Linked DNA regions of Homo sapiens. The protein of the gene in region 2 purifies or fractionates together with the protein of the main gene of each other region. This does not show direct contact. Each region holds a gene or a part of one and is shown on either strand. Other genes may lie near its edges.

Region 1 (3,500 bases), on a different chromosome or scaffold from region 2:
GCTCCCTGAACCTCTGCAGGGACCTGCTCAGTTTGGGCCTCAGTTTGGGCAGGGCCAGTTGTATGACTCATGAAGGACAGGACTACTTTCTTTTTGCAAATGGCTGATTCAGGATTTAAACCCAGGTCTGTCTACTGCCAGAGCCCATGCACATAGTCCTTGAATCTCTTTAGAAGAAAACAGGAGGAAAAAAGTCCCCAAGTCACCAGCCGCAAGGTAGATAAATGAGTTGATAGAGGTAAAGGAAGGATGCTGGAGTATAATGATTCCATATCACAGCCTCTGGAGCCAGATTGCTTTGTCCCAAATCCAGATCTACCATTTGTGAACTGTGTGATCGTAAGCAAGTTTCTTAACCTCTCTGTGCTTCAGTTTCCTCCTCTGTATAATAGGGTTAGTATATCTACATTACAGAGTTTTGAGCATTAAATGAGTTAACATATTCTGACTTTAGTGCCTGGACATATAGTCAGCACCCAGCACCAACAAGTGGTAGCCATGCTCTCTATAGCTGTATGTCCTGTCGCTCAACTAATGGGTGACCGTGCTGGTTTGGGAACCCAGTACTCCACCCAGTGCTCTGGGACCCCTGGCTTATTTCCTGTCTGGACTATGGCACTGGGTTGGGGGGCTGATTGCTACAGCCTGCTTTGGTCAGTACTGTGCCATCCTAATGTGGCTAATTGCCTTGGGGGTGTGCATTTCTTTCAGCAATACCTGAACACCTTCTATGGCTGCCCCAAGGAGAGCTGCAACCTGTTTGTGCTGAAGGACACACTAAAGAAGATGCAGAAGTTCTTTGGACTGCCCCAGACAGGTGATCTTGACCAGAATACCATCGAGACCATGCGGAAGCCACGCTGCGGCAACCCAGATGTGGCCAACTACAACTTCTTCCCTCGCAAGCCCAAGTGGGACAAGAACCAGATCACATACAGGTGCCGGGGCAGGGCTTGGGGAGGCAGGGCCATGGGGCTGAGGGACACGAGTCTCCTTGACCCATGCATTCTCTCCACTCAGGGGATCCATGAGGTGTCTTTTGTGAAGGCTTGACATCTTAGGGAGTTTCAATACACAGTTCTTAGAAAATGAAGTCAGACAGACTTGAGTTTCATACTTGCTGGCCATGAGACATTGGGTTACTTTTCAGTGCTGTGAATGTTGGCTTTCCAATCTACAAAATGGGGCTTAAAAAATGCCCTTATATGGTATGTTGGGGAACTAAGCTAGGCTGAACTAATACAAACGGCTTCTATGATTTTTGACACAGAGCAAGAGTGTAGTAATGCTAGTCATTGTTATTGTTTTTAGATGAGGTCATTGGGATGGGCAGAAGGAACGTGATGATTGGTAGCTAATTGGGTTTAGCAGCCCAATTGGGTTATAACTGGTTGCTAATTGGGCCAAGAGCTGTGCTCTGTATGGGTGGTGCTGGGTTCCAATGGTGGGATCTTTGCCCTGTGCCCCATAATGCACTACTTATGGCCCTCCCCCACCAGCCAGAAGTGACAGATGGAACTCCTGAGCTGGGGCCTAAAAATGTTGGCTGGCCTGGGACTCCCTGGGTCTTCAAGGCATTCTGGGAGGGTTGTCCTTGGCAGTGAGCCCTGCCCAGCCTACACACACATACACGCAGGCACATGCTCACATATACATACACATACCTGTGCACCCTTCCCGTGCTTGTGCATATACTTGTATGTTCACATACACACACACACTCAAACTTTTTCATACATCTGTGCACACACACATACTTGCATATACATACACTTATGCACATGCATACACACTCACATGCAGTTCTACCACCTCCAGGATCATTGGCTACACACCTGATCTGGACCCAGAGACAGTGGATGATGCCTTTGCTCGTGCCTTCCAAGTCTGGAGCGATGTGACCCCACTGCGGTTTTCTCGAATCCATGATGGAGAGGCAGACATCATGATCAACTTTGGCCGCTGGGGTAGGCAGAAGATGGGGCAGAAGAGGGGCCAGCAGGGATCAGTGTTGAGACGAGGGGGTGAGATGGACATTAGAGGGGCGTGGGGATCCTAAGGGCGGCTTAGATAGGACAGTAGATGGTGTGGGCCCTGGGGGTGGTTTAGATGGGGGCAGCACAACACGGAGTGGACACTGGAGAGCCACGTTGACATGGGGGCAGATGGTGTGTTGTGGTATAACCTGGAGGCCGTCTAAACCCGAAGCAAGTGGTCTACTGTGCTGTCCAATATGGCAGCCATTAGGCAGAATATACATGGCTGTTTAAATTTAAATTAGTTAAAAATTTTAAATTAGTTTCCTGGTCACACTGGGCACATTTTAAGTGCTCAAAAGACACAGGAGGCTAGTGACTATTGATTTTGGACAGCACAGACAAAGAATATTCCTCTTAATCACAGAAAGCTCTGTTGGATGATGCTGGTAGACACTGAGGAACTGTAGATATATGAGAGTGGTTTGGAAACAGTGGAGCAGTGTAGACACTAGAGGAAGGGTCGTAGAACCTGGGGCCAGGTGGCCATGTGAGTTTATGGTGTGAACACTGCCAGTAGCACAGACATAAAGGTATGTGGTATAGACACTGAGTGGTAAGTGATGAAGGTAAAGAGCAGGGGAAACAATGTAGACAAGTGGGTGGGTGGTACAGGCCTTGGTGACAAGGTGGGCATGAGGATTCATGTTGCAGATATTGGTGATAGTGTGACATGAAGGCAGGATTGTGGTTAAGAGGGCAGTATTGACAGGATGGAGGATGGCATAGACACTGGGGATGATGAAGATGGGGTGAGGACACTAGTGTGGTAATGTGGGTATGTGGTACATATAGTGTCATGGTGGTAGAGTAGACAATGGAGGTAGAGGGTATGGATACTGGGAGTCATGTAAACCTGGGAGAGCAGTGTAGACCATAGGATGGTAACAACCAGGTCAGCAGATCTCTACTGAGCTCCTGTTGACAGTCCTGGATAACCCCACTGGGACAAGGGAAGGGGACAGATGCTGGGTGGGCTGACAGGCTCCACATGTAGATGGGGTGTGGAGGGGTTTCAGGGTCTAGGTGGCACAGCTAGACGCTAAGACCCAGTGTGTGTTTCAGAGCATGGCGATGGATACCCCTTTGACGGTAAGGACGGACTCCTGGCTCATGCCTTCGCCCCAGGCACTGGTGTTGGGGGAGACTCCCATTTTGATGACGATGAGCTATGGACCTTGGGAGAAGGCCAAGGTGAGAAAGGGGCCCTCTGCATGCCCCAGACCTTCTCTCCTGTCCTCTCTCCACTCCATTTGCTTGGACCAGAGAGGTGGGAGGGGAGGAAAGTCACACATCTGGGTGAGTCAGAATCTTGGTCTCCAAAGAAGGCCTGGAGAAGTCCAACCTCCCCCTTCCATGTCACTCTTTAGTGGTCCGTGTGAAGTATGGGAACGCCGATGGGGAGTACTGCAAGTTCCCCTTCTTGTTCAATGGCAAGGAGTACAACAGCTGCACTGATACCGG
Region 2 (4,281 bases):
AGGTGCTACCATCAAATAAATCACAAAAAAAACTTTTGGTTTTCGTAACATTTTACATTTCAGACGGTGGATAAAGAACTGTGGAGGCCAGGCGTGGTGGCTCACACCTGTAATTCGAGCACTTTGGGAGGCTGAGGCGGGAGGATCACCTCCTCGGATCCACTGAGGAGGTCAGGAGTTTGCGACTAGCCTGGCCAACGTGGTGAAACCCCTTCTCTACTAAAAATACAAAAATTAGCCGGGCGTGGTGGCAGGTACCTGTAATCCCAGCTTCTTGGGAGGCTGAGGCAGGAGAACCACTTGAACCCGGGAGACAGATGTTGCAGTGAGCTGAGACTGCACCATTGCACTCCAGCCTGGGCAACAAGAGCGAAACTCCATCTCAAAAAAAAAAGAAAAAGAACTGTGGACATGTGCTCCTTATCTTCCACCTCTGGTTTTCCCAGCTCTGTATCTTTGTTCATGGTACCTCCTAATCCTAGAATAAAATTCTCATGACACCATCATCGCTGAACTCCTACTAATGCTTCAAAGACCCATCTGAAAATGCCTTCCGCTAAATAAAAATTGAATGAATTGGGAGAGTACTCTGTGCAGTGGAGTGTCAGTTCTGGAAACCCAGTTCTAATGCACCTGGGGTGACCTCCTCTCTCTGGGCCTCAGTTTCTCATGACTAAAAGAAAAGGATTGGTCTAAAAATTATTTTCTGCTTGCCAAAAAATATTTTCATTCTAAATTCGATTCCCACAAAATAACCATTGAATGAATGAATAAATGAACTTGAGGAGGCTCCTGTTCCAAACTTCCACCAGAGAAGAAACATCCTCAAGGGCTTGGTTCAGGTGGTCATACAGCCTCTGCTTACTCACCTCTCAGGATGGGGTACTCACTATTTCCAGAACAGTTGTTTTGGAGCAGTGGTAACTTGAAATGCCCTTTCTTATCCTGGCCACAACCCCACAACATCCCTCGAGAAAGTCAAAGGCTCAGGGAACAAGGAAGAGGGCTATACTGAGCTGAGTAAGGACTTGCCATCCTGCCACCCAGCACACTCAGACAGAAGCGTGGGCAGGCAGCTGTGAGTGGCAGAATTTTCCCCTCTGCCCCAGGAGCTGTGGTTTGGAGCAAAGACAATGTCACCAACAGGTCACACTGCAGACAGGGACAAAACTGCAAGTGATCCCCCCGGGGCTTGCATTGTAAGTTCACTCATGGTCAACAGAACTTTCCCTTCATCTCCCCATCTGCTGCCACTGAGCCGTAGGGACGATTGTCACCTCCCTTTTAAAGATTAGGCAATGGAGGCTCAAGGATAAGTGACTTGTCAAGCACCACAGCTAGTGAGAGGAAGCCAAGATTCAACCCCACATCTGACTCCAAGCTGGGGGACACAGAACCTCAGCCAAGTCCTGGGCTGGTAATACTTAGAAAAAGCTAGTGGTCTCGCCCCGGGAAGAAGCTTCCCACAGCCTGAGGGCCAGAAGCTGGCAGAGTTGTTGAGCAAACTCGCCCCGCACACGGTCGGCAGACAGCCAGGTGGGCTGAGGCGCCGGGCTCAGCTCCGGGGTCCCAGTACCAGGCGCACCACCTCCGGCTCCAGAGCACCAAGGGCCCTTCCCTGCCTGAGTCCTAAAGGACGCCAATGGGCCTCGAGAATACCTCCGCCCCTTCTCCCCTGCCCCTTCAGCTGGTTCTTTTCTTCGGCTGAAACAGATGGAATACTAGAGCATGAGTTCTGTGTCATAAAGAAATTGCCTCGTGCTCCCAGCATCTGCCGTCCTTCCCACCCCGCCCCTGTCTCGGGTAGGGCCTTCTCTCCAGGCCCTCCACCCTCCGCTGCCCATGTTTTCCAAACCAAATCGGAACCCACTATAATGGCAAGCCCGCTTTCTCTGTGCCTGGTGCAGTTCCCAGTACGTTCCAGGCATTCACTCCTTCACCCACCTGTGCCGCGGCGAGGCAGAAACTGGGAAATCTGGGCAGGATATCCTGGCAGTGCTCTGCTCGCCCTTCCTCGGCCTCCGGGTCTCCCAACCCCGCGAACCTTCCCACTGAATAGCGCAGCCGCACGCCCCAGCAAGTCCCCAAAGAGCCGGCCGTCCCCGCTCTCCACCGTGCTCCCCACTACCCGTCCTCCCCCGCCGCCTTGCCTGCAGTCCCCAAGATCGTGCCAAGCGAAGAGCCCTCGGCGACCTGCACTCCACTTCCTCTCTTACATGGGGGGAAACTGAGGCCCGAGAGGAAACAGCACCGCACCGTCCCGGCTGCGGGTTCGCCCCGGCCTCCCATCCCTACACCCGCACCTTGGCGCAGCGGTGGAAGGTGGCTGTGGTTCCGTGCTCGGGTGCTTCGGCCAGGCCGTCCTCCTCGGAACGCAAGGCTAGCACCAGCTCCTCGTAGTCGCCGTCCTCGTCCTCCTGCGCACGGGCGCCCGCGGGACCCAGGAGCAGCAGCAGCAGCAGCAGCAGTGGCAGCGGCCACCAGGACCGCCTGGAGCTGACGGTGCCCATGAGGGCCAGGGGAGAGGTTGCTGTCCTGGCGAGGAGACCTAGAGGCCGTGCGCGGTCCACGCCGGCGGCGCCTTGAGCCTTGCGGTGGGGAGGACTGTGCAGGAGCTGAAGTTCAGGAGCAGGGCGCGTGAAGGGGCGCGCGGAATCCTGGCTGGGAGCTGGGAGCCGCTGCTGCAACGACGCGTCCCGGCCCGCCCGAGCCAGTCTCACTGCCTGGCTCACTCCTCCAGGCTCAGACCCTGAACTGAACGGCGGCGCCCGCCTGCAACCATGAGCGCCTCGACGTCGCTGCGGAAACCTTCTAGGGTGTGGGTGCTTGACGCCTGGGGCGCGCAGATCACGCCACCAGAGCCCCATCGGACGATCCTATCTGATTAAACATTAACGGAACCCCCGGACTGGAGGATCAGGTTTCGGCCTCGCCCTCCCCAAACAGCGTCAGATTACGCGCAGAGGGAAGAAAAAACTCCCAAATCCTAACTGGGCTGGAAGGCAGGCCGGCGCCCTAGGGGCTCCTCCTCTCCCGCCTCTCACCCTGCGTGGGATGCCAGACTCCAAGTTCTGCCGGGCCCACCTTTTCAGTGTTTCCTGGGTCCACCTTGTCTCCTGCTGACCAGTGAGACTTCTGAATCAATCCTACTGTGGACTCCTCGCTGCCCACCGAATTCTTTCCACTGGCCTTAACCTGGCAGCCTTCTAAACTTAGCCTGGACCCCCTCCGGCCTCTGCCCTTTATGCACCCTGCACACTGACCTTACCAACTAGCTGCTCCTTGAAGAGATTGCTTGCTTTTGATGTCCAGCCTACATGCATTTCAAGGGATTTATACTACAAAGATTCAGGTTTTAAGTTTGCAAAGACGTCATATAGGTACATTCAGAATTCTATGGTAGGCACAAGCTCAGCTTTCCAGAAGATTCAATTTGCAAAGATTCCTTTTACACACCATGTTCAAGAAATCAACTGGACAAGCATCCAGTAAACACCTATTGTGTACCAGGCAGGAGGATGAAAAGGGGAAAGAGAGCTCCTGGCCTCAGATTGTACATGTGGCATGACATGAGGCTTGCTCTTTCTGGAAGGGCTGTCGATACTGGGAAGAAACAAAGGCGAATTTATGATCCTCCCTTGCAGATGCACAGCAGATTCCGAGTGAAATGGCCTGCTCTGAATCTAGGTGCTGGAGTCCAAAGTTGATGCTCTTTCCACTTTGTTTGCAAAGACCTCACTCCAGAGAGCCAGTGCACAAAGACAGTGCAACCAGTGGGTTGACAGTGACTCCATGAGGTAAGGTCAGAGTTATCCCCATCGAGCCCGCCATCGCAGCACAGAGTAGGAGCTCATGGTTTGCTGACAGAGGTGGCAGAGGTGGTTCTCCTTCCTGTTGCCTGTAATTGGAATTGTATTTGCAATGTGCTTTTGGCAGCTTCCTCATCAAAGGCCTCCCCTGGAGCAAGAATAGATGGGAGCTAACTTTCCCTGCTGCTCCCCTTTGGGACCTTGGCCTCTCACCTACCGGGGTCGTTACCGTGCACCCAGAGAATGATGAAGCCTGTGCACAGAGGGACATGGATGTCCCCAGGCCCAGGAAGGGGGCTGCTGTCCAGCATGCAGTGGGTGTGTTCTGAGGGAGGTGGGGGAGGAAGGAAGCACCCTGGGCTCTGCGACAGATGGAACCAGAGGGGCAGTCACTTCTCATCCCATATCCTCCACTGCACTCTTATGAGGGGCAGCCCCAGCTGGGCCTCCTGCCACTTGGCAGGGCTTTCAT
Region 3 (3,500 bases), on a different chromosome or scaffold from region 2:
GAGAGAAACAAATACTGTTGGGTGATACCATTTTTGAACTCAAATTATTCCCCAAAATAATTCTGCAAAAACAACGCCTGACACACTACAGAAGATAAACAAATATGTGATAGACAGTATGAACAAAAGAATAACAGAAATAATACAACAGAATCAGATCCATAGTAGCTCCATAAATTAGAAGATACCAGGTATCACACAAATTTTAAAGTAAGTAGAGCCGGGCACTGTGGCTCGTGATTGTAATCCCGGCACTTTGGGAGGCCAAAGCGGGTGGATCACTTGAGGTCAGGAGTTTGAGACCAGCCTGGCCAACATGGTGAAACCCTGTCTCTACTGAAAATACAAAAATTAGCCAGGAGTGGTGGTGCGTGCCTGTAATCCTAGTTACTCAGGAGGCTGAGGCAGGAGGATCACTTGAACCCGGGAGGTGGAGGTTGCAGTGAGTGCAACCCAGAGCATGCCACTGCACTCCAGCCTGGGAAACAGAGTGAGATTCTGTCTCAAAACAAACAAACAAACAAAAAAGTTTACCTTTTATTATTCCATTGAGATAGAGGAGAAGAAAATGAGCAAATTAAACTAGTGTTTATGGATACATGCTTAAACAGTAAATCTATAAAGAAACAAAAATGATTACCATAAAAGTCGTGATGCTAGACACTTTTGTTAGGGAGGAAGGATGGCTTCTGGGATGCTGATAATGTTCTAGTTCTTGAACTAGGTTGTGGTATCTGGGTATTTGCTTCATAATAATTCCTGGATGTATGTGAATATGTATGTATGTTTTTTGTATACTTTTCTTTATGGATGCTACATATCACAATAAAGGTTTAAAAACATTTAAGTAGACTTAAGCAAAATAAAATGCTTAAAATATGTGAAATATGTATCCAAAACCCTTAAACTACAATCTCACCTCTGAAAAATGCTTAACATTAACAAACAGTAATTTAGCTAGCCTTGAAACACATCATGGTTTCTGACATAGAAAAAGGGGAAGCTGTGATACTATACTGTGATTCTATACTACGAATCCTGAGCTATTTAGTTCCTACAGCAGAAAAACAAACTGACCCTAGTAGGTAGAGAAACAAACCTATGAGATTAGTTTGAGTACAAAATACAAAGATATGCTAATGGTTCAGAGAGGCAGCATTCTCCTTCCATCTCTCTCCCCAGCCAGCATCAAATCTATGACATTTTTCACGCTGATATGTCTTGAGGGCAGATAAAAATCTCTCTCTCTCTCTCTCTCTCTCACACACACACACACACACACACACACACCATGAAAAAACAAGACGCCATCCTGTGAGGAGAGGACTGAAGACACAAGTAATACTTCATTTTCTGATGCAACACTGTATACCCGTCACTCACAGTTAACCATAAAAAATGGACACTTACTTGATCAAGATTTGAAAGGCTGTTAGGGTCCTGACTCAGACCTTGGTACTGTCCCCTGAGTCTGTCACCAGCAGCTATTTTCCTAAACTTCTTCAGATCCACAACATATAGTGCACTGAATAAAGAAGACCCGCTTGTTACAACCAACCATGGATTACGACAGGAAAACTAAACCCAATGAATAATGGAACAGGCCACTAGCCAAATATTCTGGCTTTTCTTTGAAAAGGTATGCTACAGCCCTACAGTGGAGTTAAAGTGTGCTACTTTAAAGATCTCTAAGAAAGTCACTGCAAAATCTATACTGTGCTATGCTTTTGTTACTGTTCTGTATTTGCCATCCGAAAGAAATAATCTCAGACCAAAGATTTCTAGCATATGCGGCAGTAACAAAAGCCATAGTAACTGATAAACAACCATTATTCAATGATATCCTGATGATGTCTTCAATGTTACAGGGGGGGGAAAACCCCAGAGTGTTACAGTCCTTACAGTTCTTTTGGACCAGGAATGTAAAGAATGAAGCCACCATCACTAAACCCCAGCAGTGATCTCTGCATGTGCCGCTTCCTACACGTTCCTCTTCCCTGCACATCTTCAAATCACACTTCTCGCAGAGAAGAGAATGGGGTGCTCATTAGAAATGTAACAACACACACACTGTTCGACCTAAAAGGTCTACGTCTAGGAATTTATCTCACAAATATATGAGATATGAAAAATTATTTAGTAGATTATTCATTGCAACATTGTAGGTCACAGGGAAAACTATAAATAACACTCACACACTGGAATAATATGCAGCTATGAAAAGGAATCAGGTCTCTCTCTATTCACTGAGAAGATGTATATGACATTAAGTAAAAAAAAAAAAAAAAAAGCCAAGTTACAAAATGTATAAATAGGTAGCATATTTTGTGTAAAAAAAAAAAGAATACACATTCACAGCTGTTTCTGTAAGAATTAAGAAAATCTGGAAGGATAGACAGTCAATAAGTTGGGAGGTTATCTGCTGTGAGAACAGGAACTGAGTAGGAAAGAGAGAGACAGGATTAGGAAGTTTTTTTTACACTGTATTTTTTTTTTTTTTTGAGATGGAATCTCACTCTGTCATCCAGGCTGGAGTGCAGCGGCGTGATCTCAGCTCACTGCAACCTCCGCCTCCTGGGTTCAAGCAATTCTCCTGCCTTAGCCTCCCGAGTAGCTGGGATTACAGGCGCCCACCACCATGCCCAGCTAATTTTTGTATTTTTAGTAGAGACGGGGTTTCGCCATGTTGGCCAGGCTGGTCTTGAAATCCTGACCTCAGGTGATCCACCTGCCTTGGCATCCCAAAGTGCTGGGATTAAGGCATGAGCCACTGCACCCAGCCACTGTGTATTTTTTATCATTTTTATTTTTCAACCATACCAATGTATTACCTATTCACAATTTTAACCACACAAAATCAATTTTAAGGAAAACCCCGTAACAGTGTTAGGAGTGCTTCTTTTCAGTACCTGATATGATACTTTCGCCCGGCTAAATGACTGGCCCAGTACCCTGACTTCCAGAACCTGTAGCCGTCCATTTCTCTTCGGCTGTCACAGAAAGGAGTGTAACCATAAGGAGCACCATCCAAATTGAAATCTCTTAACTCTTTCAGATCTGTTCGTACAATCTGGAGAATATAAAAAGTCATTTGTTAAGCAACCATGCAGACAGCTCTAATGCGGTTTCCTTCAGATACAGAGTGGCTCGCTTAAGGCAGCATGGAAGGCTGCTCCGTGGTTAGTGGCACAGGCACTAGGGGCAGATGCACTTTGATTGCTCCACTTATTACCTGGTTGACTCACTAACATGTAAGACACTTCTTAGCAAGGTGTGTGGGAGTAGGAATAAAACAAATTTCAACTGCTTAGCCTTTCTGTGCCTCAGTTTCTTCATCTGTAAAATGGAGATAATGATAATGACAGTACCTATCTCACAGGGTTGCTGGGAGGATTATGTAAGTTAACATATGGATGGACAGATGTAGAATAATGCCTTGCCCATCGTAAGTACTCAACAAGGATTAAATGTGGCTATGTTACAATCAGGAAGGCACACTT
Region 4 (3,500 bases), on a different chromosome or scaffold from region 2:
ACTTGCCCATCTATTATATTTAAATGCTCCGTTAATTGATTTGATAGACTACCTTTCATTTTTTTAGACTTGACACTTCCCTAACCCATTGGGCTCCAGATTTAGAAATAACTATATAACCTTTTTTTTGTATTCTCGGGATTTGATTGATTTGTCAATTTTTAAATTTTACTCTTGTCAACTTGCAAAAACATTTTAAAATGTATTACAGCAATACACTGCAGAAATTTTAAGAAATGTATATAACCCCAGAAGGAAACTTAAGTCAACATTATGGTAATCTCTTTTCAGATTTTGCTGTTTATAAATGGGTCTACTATTATACTGTACTGTGGTATGATACCAATCTGGAACTGTTAATATTTGAACATATTTCCATATTAATATACAAATCTACATTAACATAAGTGGCTGCAATAGGATTCTATCATGTGACTCATGATACTGGCCTCTCTGACCCCCAGGGTTCCACCCAAGAATGTAGTACATTGAAAGGTAAAAATAAGTTTCCTTGGCCAGTTGTTGAACTTAATAAATCTGTGTTTACCCCTTAGTGGGCCCATGCCTAAGGTTTATACTTTGAGGTGTTCTTGATACCAATAGCATACAGAGTAAGTCTTAACGTTGTTGATAGGTTCTTGGAAACTGGGACTTCTAGCAGAATGACCTCAAATAATGTCATGCAGGTCCTCAAATAATGTCATGTCACTGTAACACAGCTGAGGGGAAAAAAATTGGTCTTGTTATGTGTCATTTCATTTAAAGCAATTTCCAAGAACCTATCAACAATGGACTGTAAGTGAGAACTTGAAATTAATGCCCTAACTATATAGCAAGTGAAGGCATTTGTGCTGTGCCTACTCTTACTCTGTATTCAGGAAAACCTAGCTGAGTTTAATTGCTTCCCTAGCATAACAAGTTATTTTGCCTCAATACACGATTAAAGACAGATTGTTTAATTTTGTCAGTGTATGATACTGATAGCGCTTTAAGTCCTTATTTAAGAGGTACGTACTGAAGTATTTGTGGGTTAATGGATATAGTTGGAGTTTGCTTGAAAGTATATGTGGGGGGCATGCGTAGGGGTGTAATACATGAAATATTAGTCATGAGTTAGTAACTGCTGAAGCCAAATTGGATGGATATGTAGGAATTCATTGTACTGTTGGCTCTGTTTATACAGGATTAATATTTTCCATACGTAAAGGTGAAACATGATTGCTCTGTTAGGTAACCAGAGTGATCTTGGGAAATAATCAGGAGATAACTGCTTTGGTGTAATACTCTACAAACACAGGTTTTCTTACATGAGTTATGTTCTAAGAGACGTTGCCCAAACCCTTACTGAACTAAAATATGTGGGTCAGAGGTGAGGGGCACGAAGTCTCAGTTTAAAAAAAAAAAAAAAGGCGTGTTTTTTTGCCCTGTTAGAAAATACTCCTCCCCTTGTATTTTACGGACCACATGGGCTAAGGGAGTGTCTAGCACTGATTGTTTTGTTTGCTTGTTTAATTTAAATGAGACAAGGTCTGGAACTCCTGTGCTCCAGGGTGCTATCCTCAGGGTATCCTCCTGACTCGGCCTCTCAAAGTATAATTACCCTTTTTTTAAGGGGACTATACTGAATAGTTCTTTAAAATACGGATTTTCAGGCACAGGGGCTCAGGTCTGTAATCCGAACACTATAGGATGCCGAGGCAGGATCCCTTGAGCCCAGTAGTTCAAGACCAGCCTGAGCGACATGAGAACCCCCATCTCTATTAAAAAAAAAAAAATTCAAAAATTAGCTGGTCTGTGGTCCTGGCTACTCGGGAGGCTGAGGTGGGAGGATCACTTGAGCCCAGGAGATGGAGGCTGCAGTGAGCCATGTTTGTGCCACTGCACTCCAGCCTAGGCAACAGAGCAAGATCCTATCTCAAGAGAAGATTATAGATTTAAAATTTTTTTAGTTTTATATATAAATACTACAATAGAAGGGTCTTGATTTACATTGCTGTTAGACTTTTAATAGAAGTAATTTGATGTGTTATAAGTAATGAAACTGAAATACTTAATTAACATTTTTTGGTTATAACCAGTGTTAGCCAGTCATGGTTTAGTACCAGCATATACCTGTTGAGTTAATACTCTAAATATTGCTAATGAGGTGTAGGTGTCTGTGGGAAAGTTGAAACTTGGAAAGGATATGCAGCTTACTTCCCCAGGGTAATCCAGCCAGTGAATAGCAGCTCTGAGATTTGAAGGCTAGTCTCTTTGCCTCTGGAGTTTGTGTTCTCCACTATGATACCTTTCTTCAGGAGCAAATTGGACTGAACTACTTAAGTGGGCTTTCTTAGTCATTTCTGTGATTTTTATGCATAAACAAACATCTATGTATAGATTTTATGATTCTGACCTTAGTTGGATATTTAATAAAAGTACAAAATTAATGTTTTGTTTTTAGGCATGAAAGATGGCCAGAAGATAACATTCCATGGTGAAGGAGACCAAGAACCAGGACTGGAGCCAGGCGATATTATCATTGTGTTAGATCAGAAGGACCATGCTGTTTTTACTCGGTAAAGACTTTTATCAACCACTCAAATTGATATCACATATTTGGGTTGTTGGTTTTGTTTTTTGTTTTTTTGTTTTTTTTAAAGTGTTTTCCATTACTCTTAGAACCTATTTCTCAGGAAGATTGTTAACCATTGTTCAGATCATAAGAGGTTGAATACATAGGATCAGATTTTTAGCTTTTTGTCTCTAAGTATGGAACGTTGAAAATGTGTTTCAATTAGATGTTTTGTGTGAACCTAAGCAGCAGATGGGTGGGGAAAACATCCCTGGACAAAAATTTGCCCTCAATCTTTGTAAAGCAATTTAAGTGCCTTAAAGCTCTCACCAGTTTTCAATCTCATTTATGATAAATTGAATTGCTTTTAATTATAAATATCCAAAAGCATCTCTGTAGGAAACTTAAATTGTAACTCAATACTAAGTATAAATTCAGGTCTACCATTTTGAGCTAAATAATGAGTATGATGAACACTGAAGCACAAGAAAGATGGATGATTAACAGCAAATGTTTGTGATCCATGGCTAACATAACACCCTCTGTGCATGCTATATTCCCAGCAACTTGGGAGGCTGAGGTGGGAGGATCACTTGAGGCCAGGAGTCCTAGCTACTGGGGAGGCTGAGGCAGAAGAGTGGCTTGAACTCAGGAGTTCAAGGTTATGATCATGCCACTGCATTCTAGCCTGGGTGACAGTAAGAACCCACCTTTTTTTTTTTTTTTTTTTAATGGAGTGGAGGTGAAATTGGGAACATCTTAAACTAGTTTAGGATTAATTAATATTTCAGCTTGGTTTGGTGGCTTACGCCTGTAATCCCAACACTTTAGGAGGCCGAGGTGGATGGTCAGGAGTTCAAGACCAGCCTAGCCAACATGGTGAAATGCCATCTCTGTTAAAAATTAAAAAATTAGCCAGGCATGGTGGCAGGCCCTGAGGCAGGAG
Region 5 (3,500 bases), on a different chromosome or scaffold from region 2:
AGGGCCTCAATCTGTTCATCTGATTTTCTAGAACACACAAACTTCTGCACTCCAGATCATCAACTTGACCACACGACACTGAAAAATATGATACCGCCTGTCTACAGAAGTACCTGAAGACTCCTGGGAGCTGAACAGTACATTTAAAAAAGATTATTTCCCCTTGAATTACCAAAGCAATTGTTAGAAAAATAAAGAAGAAAGTGACAACTGGATGCAATCCCCCGCCCCGCCCCCGGAGCTGCTGTGCTCTGGTTGCTGAGCCTGTGGTATCAGGGAAAGAGGAGCACAGGCTCGTCTCCTCAGGGTCACGGGGGAAAGACAGCCAGGCTGAGTTCACCAACTCCCCCAATTCCCAGCATACGTTCTCTGGGAGCAGTGCCACAACCAGCTCTTCTCAGTCAGTGGTGCAAGCCGTGGGAGGTGGAGTCTCGGGCAGAGCCTTACCATGCCGGAGCCGCCACAGTAGTGGCAATGCTGCACCTTGGTGCCGGGCTCGTTCCCCTTGCCGTTGCAGCGCTCACACGTGTCCATGATGTTCACGGTGAACTCCTTGTTGACCCCCTTTGCAGCTTGATTGAATGTCAACTCCATGAAGTACTAAAGAAACCAAGGGACAGCCTGTCAACTTTTGTTTGCAACGACCAAAACTGACGCTCGGCTCTAAAGGGAAAGGAGGGTACTGGCCCACATTTTCAGTCACTCTTTCACCACTGTACTTACTTGCACTCTGCCAAGTAAGCATAGGTAGGACTCACTGAACGAATTCTGCCCTACTCTTTGGGATTTTTAAGAGATAATGTATGACTTAAATGAAAACGTACTTTCAACAGACTGAAAATGTTCACAGATAAATACTCGTACATGGCACTTAAAAACAGCCTGAATGATCCACAATCATAATTTAGATCATAAATATATCCCCTCTCTCTTCCACTCTGACAGTGTCTTATAAGGACATAAATGAGAGAGGATCAGCAGTGCCTTCCCACCGGACAGAACTCTCCTGGAATACTGTAGCAGATGAGAGACAACACTCACACCCTCATGGGCTCTGAAAGCCTTAGGTGCTACCTCATTATGCAACTGTTAAGAATACCATCAGAATGGACATACTCATTACTACCTATGCGATTTTTCAAATACTGAAATTATTTTCTACTAAAATGGCTGCCTCCAGATCACTCCATTTAAGCTGCCTTGCCTTTCTGAGAAACAGAAACTGATAAAAAAATTTGTTTGACCCATACTTAGTCTAAAATTTGAATAATTCTTCCAAGTGAGGAACTTACTTCCTGAGGCTGATCAAACACGGTCTGGAAATCTCCAAATGAAGAGGATGAGAACTCGCCAAAGATCTTCCTGAACAGCTCCTCGGGGTCCACAGTGGGGCCTCCCTTCCAGTAGCTATGCTGGGAGCCGCTGGCCCCAGGATCGAAGCCTGCAGAGCCGTAGGCATCGTACTGCTTCCTCTTCACCTCATCACTCAAAACCTACAGTGAAAGGCAGAGCCACTGGGCATCCCAGGTCTACCAAGGCCCAGGAATACAGACAAGAGTTCACAGCAAATAAGGCAGCCATAACATTTATTAAGTGGCCCTGTGTGCAAACACATCCTATGAGGTTGGGGTGGGCCTGTGACTAGCACCTAGAAGAGGGATGAGATGACCAAACTGAATGCTAAGTGTAGGGCGTGAAGTGCTTCCAAAAGTCTCACGAACTCTCCCGCCGTCGCGCATGCTGGGAAAATGTTTGTGTTGATCCTCGCTTGACCTCACAGGCACCCTGGATTCTTCACAGATTCACACTTCACCTCTCTCCTCAGGGGACATTACCTCGTAGAGAATTTATGCTTCCTACCCTTACCTTCATCGAAAGGTTTTCTGCAAGCCAGAACAACCGGAGTAACAGAAGTAACAGCAACGACAATAGCAGTGGTGCAATCCTAGCTCACTGCAGCCTCAACCTCCCAGGTTGAAGCAATCCTCCTGCCTCAGCCTCCACAGTAGCTGGGTCTACAGGTGCACACCACCAGTCCTGGCAAATTGTTTTAAGTTTTTGTAGAGACAGGGTCTTGCTATGTTGCCCAGGCTGCTTTCAAACTCCTGGCCTCAAGCGATCCTCCCACTTCGACCTCCCAAAATACTGGGATTACAGGCATGAGCCACTGGGCCTGGCCCACAAAACTGTTAATAAGGACTAACTACCTCAAAAAGGGGGATTAGGGAGGGACAAGGAAAAATGTAGTATTCACTTTGTATCTTTTTTTTTTTTTTTGAGACGGGAGTCTTGCTCTGTCGCCAGGCTGGAGTGCAGTGGCGCGATCTCGGCTCACTGCAACCTCTGCCTCTCGGGTTCAAGTGATTCTCCTGCCTCAGCCTCCCGAGTAGTTGGGACTAAAGACATGCACCACCACGCCCAGCTAATTTTTTTGTATTTTTAGTAGAGACAGGGTTTCACCACGTTTGCCAGGATGGTCTCGATCTCTTGACCTCGTGATCCGTCTGCCTCAGCCTCCCAAAGTGCTGGGATTACAAGCGTGAGCCACCGTGCCTGGCCCTCACTTTGTATCTTTTTTTTATGTGTTTGTCTTACTTTTTTTTTCTTTAATTAAAAAGACACTGCCCTAGGCTGAGTATGGTGGCTCACACCTGTAATCCCAGGACTTTGGGAGGCCAAGGCAGGTGGACTGCTTGAGTTCATGAGTTCAAGACCAGCCTGGGCAACATGGTGAAACCCCATCACAAGAAAAATACAAAAAAATTAACCAAGAATGGTGGTGCACGCCTATAGTTCCAGCTACTTGGGAGGCTGAGGTGGGAGGATTGCTTGAGCACGGAGGTTGAGGTTGAGGCTGCAGTGAACCGTGATTGCACCATTGCACTCCAGCCTGGGCAACAAAGTGAGACACTATCTCAAAAAAATAGGCACTATCCTTAAGGCCAAACAGAAAAGAGTACGCTTCCTCCAAAGGAAAAGACACTTCCACCTAGAATGGAGGGGGACTAAGAAAGCAGGTGGAGGACAGCTTGGTGCCTAGGGTAACTTTTAGGGCACCCAGTTAAGATGCAAAGGAGGAAGGCTGGCAGAGGAGGAGTCAGGTGGGAGTTCATGACTTCCTGGTGGGTTTTATCTCCTGGTTCCAGCCCTTCCCAAGGAATTGCTGCTCTTAGGTTCTGAGGCTCGGTCCGTTTAATAACATCCCCCTTGAAGACAGAAGTCAGCAACACGGTGGATTAGGACTCTCCAAAACTCATGCCCCTGGCAGAAACATCAGATCAACTAACCATGTGGAAAAACACATTCACAAGAATAACACCCCCCCGCCCCATTAAAAATTGAATCTTCTGGGTGCAGTGGGGAACCTGTAGTCCCAGCTACTCAGGAAGTTGAGGTTGAGGCAGGAAAACTGCTTGAGCCCAAGAGTTTGAGACTGCAGTGAGCTGTGATCTCGCCACTACACTCCAGCCTAGGTAACAGAGTGAGACCTCAACTCTTTT
Region 6 (3,500 bases), on a different chromosome or scaffold from region 2:
CTTGAATAATGCAGCAAAGCTCTATTTCTCAATAGCAGAATGTATTTCCAAATGATATCCTGATAATCTTGACAGTACAGATTCTATGGAACACATTTTAATAATACCATTTATAATCGTTCAGGTTCCTCACTGGAAACTAAGAAAAAAGATATCAGAGCTTTACATTCAATGAGACAACACTTGTAAAATACTTTGTAAACTACCAAATACAATATACATATTGTATAAATTATGTTCCTTAAGACAGAAACTGAAATTGGCAAACATTTAATTTTAAAATATAGCAAAGTCAATGGTGTTTTTTTTGCCAGGCACTGTGGCTCACGCCTGTAATCCCAGCACTGTGGGAGGCTGAGGTGGGCAGATCACCTAAGGTCAGGAGTTCAAGACCAGCCTGGCCAACATGGCGAAACCCCGTCTCTACTAAAAATACAAAAATTAGCCAGACATGGGAGCGGGTGCCTGTAGTCCCAGCTACTCGGGAGGCTGAGGCAGGAGAACTGCTTGAGCCCAGGAGGCAGAGGTTGCAGTGAGCCGAGACTGCACCCTTGCACTCCAGCCTGGGCAACAGAGTGAGACTCCATCTCAAAAAAAAAAATTCATAATCCAAAATGTTTATTATTACAGAAGACTAGTGAGATGGCACCTTGTAAAACAAGACTTAAAATGTTCTGCAAATTCTACATACTGTTATTTTCTCTACTATTTAACTTGTCATAATGTTTCACAAATTTAAAAAATGCTAACTTTATCCCTTACCATTCCAGACCGAAAAATGAAGAGGCTGGGATAGCTGTTGACTCCTTTCATTCGGCAAAGCATTCTATCATCACCACAGTTAACAGCTCCAATTCGAAGTAACCCATCCACTTCTTTAGCAAAGTCTCTCCACTATGACAGAAAAAGAAAACATATTTCTCTGATAAGACCACTTTTCTTCCCTTGAACACACTCCAAGCTATATATTTTTAAACCAGACATTTAAAGTATTTGATAATTATTTTTGATTACTATTCATAGAAAAAAAAATTCTAACATATAAATTGCAGATCAATTAGAAATAAAACTAGTAATGAGGATGTGAAAAATACATACTGTGGGAGCTAAATCATGGCAGTGTGAACAGCCTGGGGAGTAAAAATTTACAAACCACAGTTCTCCAGAATTAACAGCAGCATCTAAAAATACATAAAATGCAAACAACTTAGAATTATTTATTAAAGGTTCATGCATATTTTAGTTAAAAACTTTTTGTGGAGATCAGAATTTTAAAAAGTCATGCAATTTTCATATTGTCTTTCTCATTTTCTGTGTGATGTTTTTCTATATCTTCTACATAAATGACATTTTTAAAAAATTAAAAATTTTTTTTCCACAAGAAACATTTCAAATGTCAAACCAACAATAGCTTTTTAAAAAAACTCTCCTACGCCCATACTTGAAAAAGAAGCAGCCTCAAACTGCAAGATAAATATGGCCATAAAGTTGTAAAAAGTGACGGCACAAGAAATAGCAGCCAAACCTCACGTAAGAGTTTGTGTGCATGAGAGAAATAAAGAAGACAAATAGTAAGAGTGACTGAGATTTAAGCTCTTCTATTACATGCAGCACAGGTTAAGTAGGTTTAGTCAATTCTGACAGCTACTGTAAACTCTGAAAGAATAAAATAAGAGACCTACATAATACAGTAAGGATTGCGGGGATTAAATTTAATCTAAGCCCTAAACAAGACATTACCTTGGAAAATCATTTTGTTTGAAAAGGTTGAGGTTTTTAACAATTCAAAACATTAATACATATTTGCTAAAATTACAGATTTGAACAACATATAATATCTAGCCAATAGTACATTTTATATTTTATCTGTAAAATGACCTGATGCAAATTACAAATTTTACTCACTTAAAAAATTTAACATTGTAAAAATGTGCTTTCACATTCAAGATAAAAAGGCGAGGTTAATCTGCTTTTGGTTAAAGGATTTCCATATAATTCCATGTTAAAATTTATTATTTTAAAATAAAAATTTCAGAAATTACAGTAAGACATTAAATCACACATGGTATTCTAAATACGTGCAACTAATTCAGGCTAATTAGAAACAGGTGCAGGACTCAGTGTTCACCTACATTTCAAGTATAAGACAGACCTGTGGGAAAACAGTTAATCTACACATTACAGGCAAAGTGTGTAATTCAGGACTATGGGCTGTTCTTTGGCAATGTTTTCAAAGTCTGGCAAATGACCATTCTATAGAGGTGGTCGAAAAAATTGCCATATTGGTTTAGACCACAAACCAGTACAAATTTAGGTAAAAATATTAACAGAATTAATGCAAACTTTAATGAAAGAAGGGATTATCTTATCAGCTATAAACAAGTAATGAGGTAGTTATTTTTATATAAAAATAGAAAGCAATAATTACACAAGGTATTACTGTTCATAAGTCTTAAATAAAAATATGCTGTAAAACAAATTTGAATGGTATTTGACACAAAACCTTTCTTGTAGTAAAAATGTCTCCTACCCTGGTAACAGGCATACCTCAGATATTGTGGGTTTGTTTCCAAATCACAACATAGCAAGTATCACTATAAAGGAGTCACACAAATTTTCTGGTTTTCCAGTGCATATAAAAGTTATATTTACACTATATACAGTGTATTATGTAATAGCATTATGTCTAAAAAAAAAAAACAAACAAAACAATGTACATACCTTAATTAGAAAATAGGCTGGGCGCAGTGGCTCATGCTTGTCATCTAGCCTTTTGGGAGGCTGAGACAGGAGGATCACTTGAGCCCAGGAGTTTGAGACCAGCCTGGGAAACACAGCAAGACCCTGTCTCTATAAAAATAGCTGGACATGGTGGCACATGCCCGCAGTCTCAGCTAGTCGGGAGACTGAGGCAGCAGGATTGCTTGAGCCCAGGAGTTCAAGGCTGTGATGAGCTATGATCCTGCTGCTGCACTCTCCAGGTGGGGTGACAAACCAACCAAGGAACAAAAAATAACTTTATTGGTAAAAAATGCTAACAGTCATTTCAGCCTTTCAGCAAGTCATGCATGTCGTGATGTTGATGGGTGCTGACTGATCAGGGTGGTGGTTGTGTAAGGTTGGGGTGGCTGTGGCAATTTCTTAAAATGAGATGACAATGAAGTTTGCCACACTGATTGATGTCTCCTTTCCTGAAAGATTTTCTCTGAAGCGTGAAATGCTGTTTGATGGCATCTGACCCACAGTAGAACTTCTTTCAAAATTGGAGTCAAAACTGGCCTCAAACCCTGCTGCTGTTTTATCAACCAAGTTTATGTAATATTCTAAATCCTTTGTTGTCATATCAACATTGTTTACAGGATCTTCACCAGGAGTAGGTTCCATCTCAGGAAATCACTTTCTCTGCTCATCCATAAGGAACAACTCCTCACCGCCCCATGGTGAGATTATTATAATGAGATAATTATATTATAATGAGATCATTATAATGAGATTGCAGC
Region 7 (3,340 bases), on a different chromosome or scaffold from region 2:
AATATATATGTATGTGTGTACATATCTGTTGTGGACATGCATACATATGTTTCATGTACTTTGTCCATATTCCACAATAAGAAAATATACAAATGACCAGTAAATATGAAAAGACATTCAATCTCACTAGTAATTAGAAAAATAAAATAACCATGATCAGCTATCATGATTTGCTGAAAATGTAAAAGACTGATAATATCCCTCTTTGCTGAGGTTGCAAAGAAATAGGCATTCTCATATGCTGTCAAAGGAAAGTAAATTAATAACTCTTTTTGAAGAACAATGTGGCAATATGTATAAAAACATAAAGCTTGTCTTAAAAGTTTTCAATTGCAATTCCAAATATCTATCCTAATGAAATTCACATGCACTAAAGATATGTGTACAAAGATGTCTGCCATTCACTACAGCATTGTTTGCAGTAGTGAAAAAAATGAATAAATATCAATAAGGGAAGATTTATGAAAAGTATTATAACCCATACAATGAAATACTATGCAGCCATTAAAAATAAAACTTTATAAACTGACATGGAAAGATATCCAAAACACATTAAGTGAACAAAAGCAAGACACAGAATAACACACACATAACATAATCCTGTTTCTAAAATATAAATATGTACATATATTTCTATAGAGTTATGAAAAACAGACTACATATTCATGCTGTAACCTGTTAGCAGTGATTACCTCTGGGCCAGGAAGTGGTGGAGGTAGAAGGAGGGTAAGCGGGACACTTTCCCATCTCACTCTAGATACATACATAGGATTCTTTTGTAATCACATATCCATGGACTACTTATATATTTCTAACAAGTGGTAGTAGCAAAACAACTGTATTATTATTTGTTCCACTCCCATGAGACCAATCTAATACATTTGAAAATAACTTGCTTTCAAAGCTAATTCTTTTGTTCCTGGAGGGCCTCCAGGGAGCCTACAGTTGCAGTCACAGGGCTGTCAGCCATCAATCGAGGAGCACTGTGCAGGATACTAAGTAACTTGGTCTGTCTCCAGGCTCGCCTCTTGAAAATATTTGCATACATTCTCATATCCCAGCTTACTGGCAGTAGCAATAATGTCTTCCCAGAGCACTTTGGTAAGGTAAATAAATTCTGATACTGCACATCAAATCACATCCATATCAAAGTGTAGATGTGGCTGTCAAGATCTATGTTTAGATCCAAATTAGTAATCACGCCCTTGATGAGTGACTTTTAGAACAGTTTGCATTTGGATTCCAAAGTAAGAACCTAGACCCCACTAAATCACCATATAGAGCTTTTCTTCTCTTTCTTCTTCCCTCCCTTCACTCTGCGCTAGCCCTTTCTAAAACTAATTTTTCTGTTTTCTATAAAGGTGGAAGAAAGGGCGAACCCGATCATGAGTTATTTGCAATCAGTAGTCAATCAGAACAAAAAGTATTATCAGTATATTTACAAAGAAAAATCCAACTACATGTATACATTTTGGTGTGCATTTTATTTTTGACTGGAATCATATCCATATGAAGGGAAATTGTGAAAGTATCCTTTACTCTTTTGAAAGCTTGGCCTTTGCCTTACTGTGTCAAAGGAAAGCAAAACTAAGCCAGTAATGATGGAGATGTCCCTGTTTCCATATGCACACTGACAGGCGAGGAGCTGCCTAGGAAATGCTTTTTGATTGATGAACAGAGGAGGGTCTACACACATTAAATACAAATGGAAACACATCAGCACACACAAGTCATTAGCCTGGTCCTCTGGCATCCACTGGCATGCATCTTTCCAAAGTATCACTTATTCAGTGGTAGCAGCACTATGTCTCGTTATGCCTTTTATCAGCAAATACCTTTTTATTCCAGAATGGAAAACAAACTAGGAATTAAATACATCCAATATTGATGCTTTATTTCCATAAGTCACCAATAAGAGAATGAATTTAATTTTAATACATTTATTTTTGTGTGATTCTTAATAAAACACTTTCAAAACATTCTGTACATTTCAAGCCACTCAGAACCGCATTACATTTCTACAAATGTGATTTGTTGGGATGAGGTGCCAAGATGTCTCTGTACAAAGATGTACAATATGTACAATCACTGTAAGTGCAAGCTGTGCAAAGCAGAGTCTAGAACACTAATTCATGCCAAGGCTTACAAAAACATTTCAACACATAAGACTAAAGCTTGAAACAGCGTTGTGGTTTTTTCCCTGGGCAAATGATTATTTTATAAACAAGTATATGTATATGTCATACAGAAAGAAGAGTTTGACTCCTCAGCTCAGTCAGTACCATGCAGCTGACTGGATACATTACAGGGCTGCTCTCCTAGGCCTCTTTCTTCAAGGCGCCATTTTGCCACACTCAACAGTTGTCTCATCACTGAGTGGCTGCCACTGCTGCCTTTGGCTGAACCACAGCAACACTAGGAGACTTAAATTTCGGGAGATAAAGGCCAAATTTGTTTTCGATGCCTGCAAACGTGGCTGTGGCGAGTCTGTATCCACCGATGTGATCAGGGTTGGCAGGAGGAAGGTCTGCAATGCGTGACTTAGGTGTTGGTTCTGAACCAGCGGGTTTGCTGTTGACAGAAAAAAAGCCAATGGTTAGCATGCTCAAGGTGGATGAGCGCAGCTTACAGCTGGACATTTTCGGTCTGACCCATGTGCCACAAAGAAGAATGTTTCTCTCAACCATTTCCATGGCATCTGTGCTGCATGACTAGAAACCACAGTCATGATTTATAGCTGCTTTGACAGCAACTTATCTACATATTTGATTTACAAGAGAAATGGCCTTATTTCCAATGCTTGCATACATATATAAACAAATCCATAGGAAAAAAGTCAGAAGAAAAGACACTCAAATATGAAGACTCTCTGGGTAGTAAGATTATGGATGATTTTTTTCTTTTTTCTTCTTGTAAAGATGGGGTCTTGCTATGTTGCCAAAGCTGGTTTCGAACTTCTGGTCTAAGGAATCCTTCTGCCTTGGCCTCCCAGAGCACTGGGAGGTGTGAGCCACCACACCCAGGCTGGTTTTTTTCTTTTATGCTTTATGGTTTTCCAAATTTTCTGCACTTAGCACATATGAAAGTAATTTTTAAAGTATATATTTTTCTTTTGACATAACTTTAGAAGTTAACTTTTTATGTAGTAGACTCATAAAGATTATCAATTAAATTATTTAAAGAGAGATAGGCCGGGCATGGTGGCTCACGCCTGTAATCCCAGAACTTTGGGAGGCCGAGGCAGGCGGATCATGAGGTCAGGAGATCAAGGCTATCCTGGCTAACACGGTGAGACCCCGTCTCTACTAAAAATATTAAAAAAAAAAAAAATTAGCCAGGC

The links.
Region 1: the proteins of PCSK9 (region 2) and MMP2 fractionate together in Homo sapiens (co-fractionation; one study listed by IntAct). This does not show direct contact.
Region 3: the proteins of PCSK9 (region 2) and UGGT1 purify together in Homo sapiens (affinity purification with western blotting; one study listed by BioGRID). This does not show direct contact.
Region 4: the proteins of PCSK9 (region 2) and DNAJA1 purify together in Homo sapiens (affinity purification with western blotting; one study listed by BioGRID). This does not show direct contact.
Region 5: the proteins of PCSK9 (region 2) and DNAJA3 purify together in Homo sapiens (affinity purification with mass spectrometry, with the first as the bait; one study listed by BioGRID). This does not show direct contact.
Region 6: the proteins of PCSK9 (region 2) and DNAJC10 purify together in Homo sapiens (affinity purification with mass spectrometry, with the first as the bait; one study listed by BioGRID). This does not show direct contact.
Region 7: the proteins of PCSK9 (region 2) and SLC25A12 purify together in Homo sapiens (affinity purification with mass spectrometry, with the first as the bait; one study listed by BioGRID). This does not show direct contact.

Annotation. Positions count from the first base shown.
Region 1 is NC_000016.10:55,482,198-55,485,697, forward strand, and holds part of MMP2 (72 kDa type IV collagenase isoform 1 preproprotein), read left to right. Parts: intron 1-711; coding exon 712-938; intron 939-1,818; coding exon 1,819-1,967; intron 1,968-3,101; coding exon 3,102-3,230; intron 3,231-3,406; coding exon 3,407-3,500.
Region 2 is NC_000001.11:55,038,067-55,042,347, reverse strand, and holds the start of PCSK9 (proprotein convertase subtilisin/kexin type 9 isoform 1 preproprotein), read right to left. Parts: upstream 2,801-4,281; 5' UTR 2,511-2,800; coding exon 2,304-2,510; exon of another isoform or gene 1,945-2,303; intron 382-1,944; coding exon of another isoform or gene 259-381; intron 1-258.
Region 3 is NC_000002.12:128,181,700-128,185,199, reverse strand, and holds part of UGGT1 (UDP-glucose:glycoprotein glucosyltransferase 1 precursor), read right to left. Parts: intron 3,071-3,500; coding exon 2,910-3,070; intron 1,526-2,909; coding exon 1,411-1,525; intron 1-1,410. UniProt on the Homo sapiens protein: Recognizes glycoproteins with minor folding defects. Reglucosylates single N-glycans near the misfolded part of the protein, thus providing quality control for protein folding in the endoplasmic reticulum.
Region 4 is NC_000009.12:33,031,773-33,035,272, forward strand, and holds part of DNAJA1 (dnaJ homolog subfamily A member 1), read left to right. Parts: intron 1-2,443; coding exon 2,444-2,558; intron 2,559-3,500.
Region 5 is NC_000016.10:4,439,368-4,442,867, reverse strand, and holds part of DNAJA3 (dnaJ homolog subfamily A member 3, mitochondrial), read right to left. Parts: intron 1,494-3,500; coding exon 1,293-1,493; intron 601-1,292; coding exon 448-600; intron 1-447. UniProt on the Homo sapiens protein: Modulates apoptotic signal transduction or effector structures within the mitochondrial matrix. Affect cytochrome C release from the mitochondria and caspase 3 activation, but not caspase 8 activation.
Region 6 is NC_000002.12:182,726,257-182,729,756, reverse strand, and holds part of DNAJC10 (dnaJ homolog subfamily C member 10 isoform 1 precursor), read right to left. Parts: intron 1,182-3,500; coding exon 1,099-1,181; intron 895-1,098; coding exon 763-894; intron 1-762. UniProt on the Homo sapiens protein: Endoplasmic reticulum disulfide reductase involved both in the correct folding of proteins and degradation of misfolded proteins.
Region 7 is NC_000002.12:171,782,905-171,786,244, forward strand, and holds the end of SLC25A12 (electrogenic aspartate/glutamate antiporter SLC25A12, mitochondrial), read right to left. Parts: intron 2,572-3,340; coding exon 2,370-2,571; 3' UTR 501-2,369; downstream 1-500. UniProt on the Homo sapiens protein: Mitochondrial electrogenic aspartate/glutamate antiporter that favors efflux of aspartate and entry of glutamate and proton within the mitochondria as part of the malate-aspartate shuttle.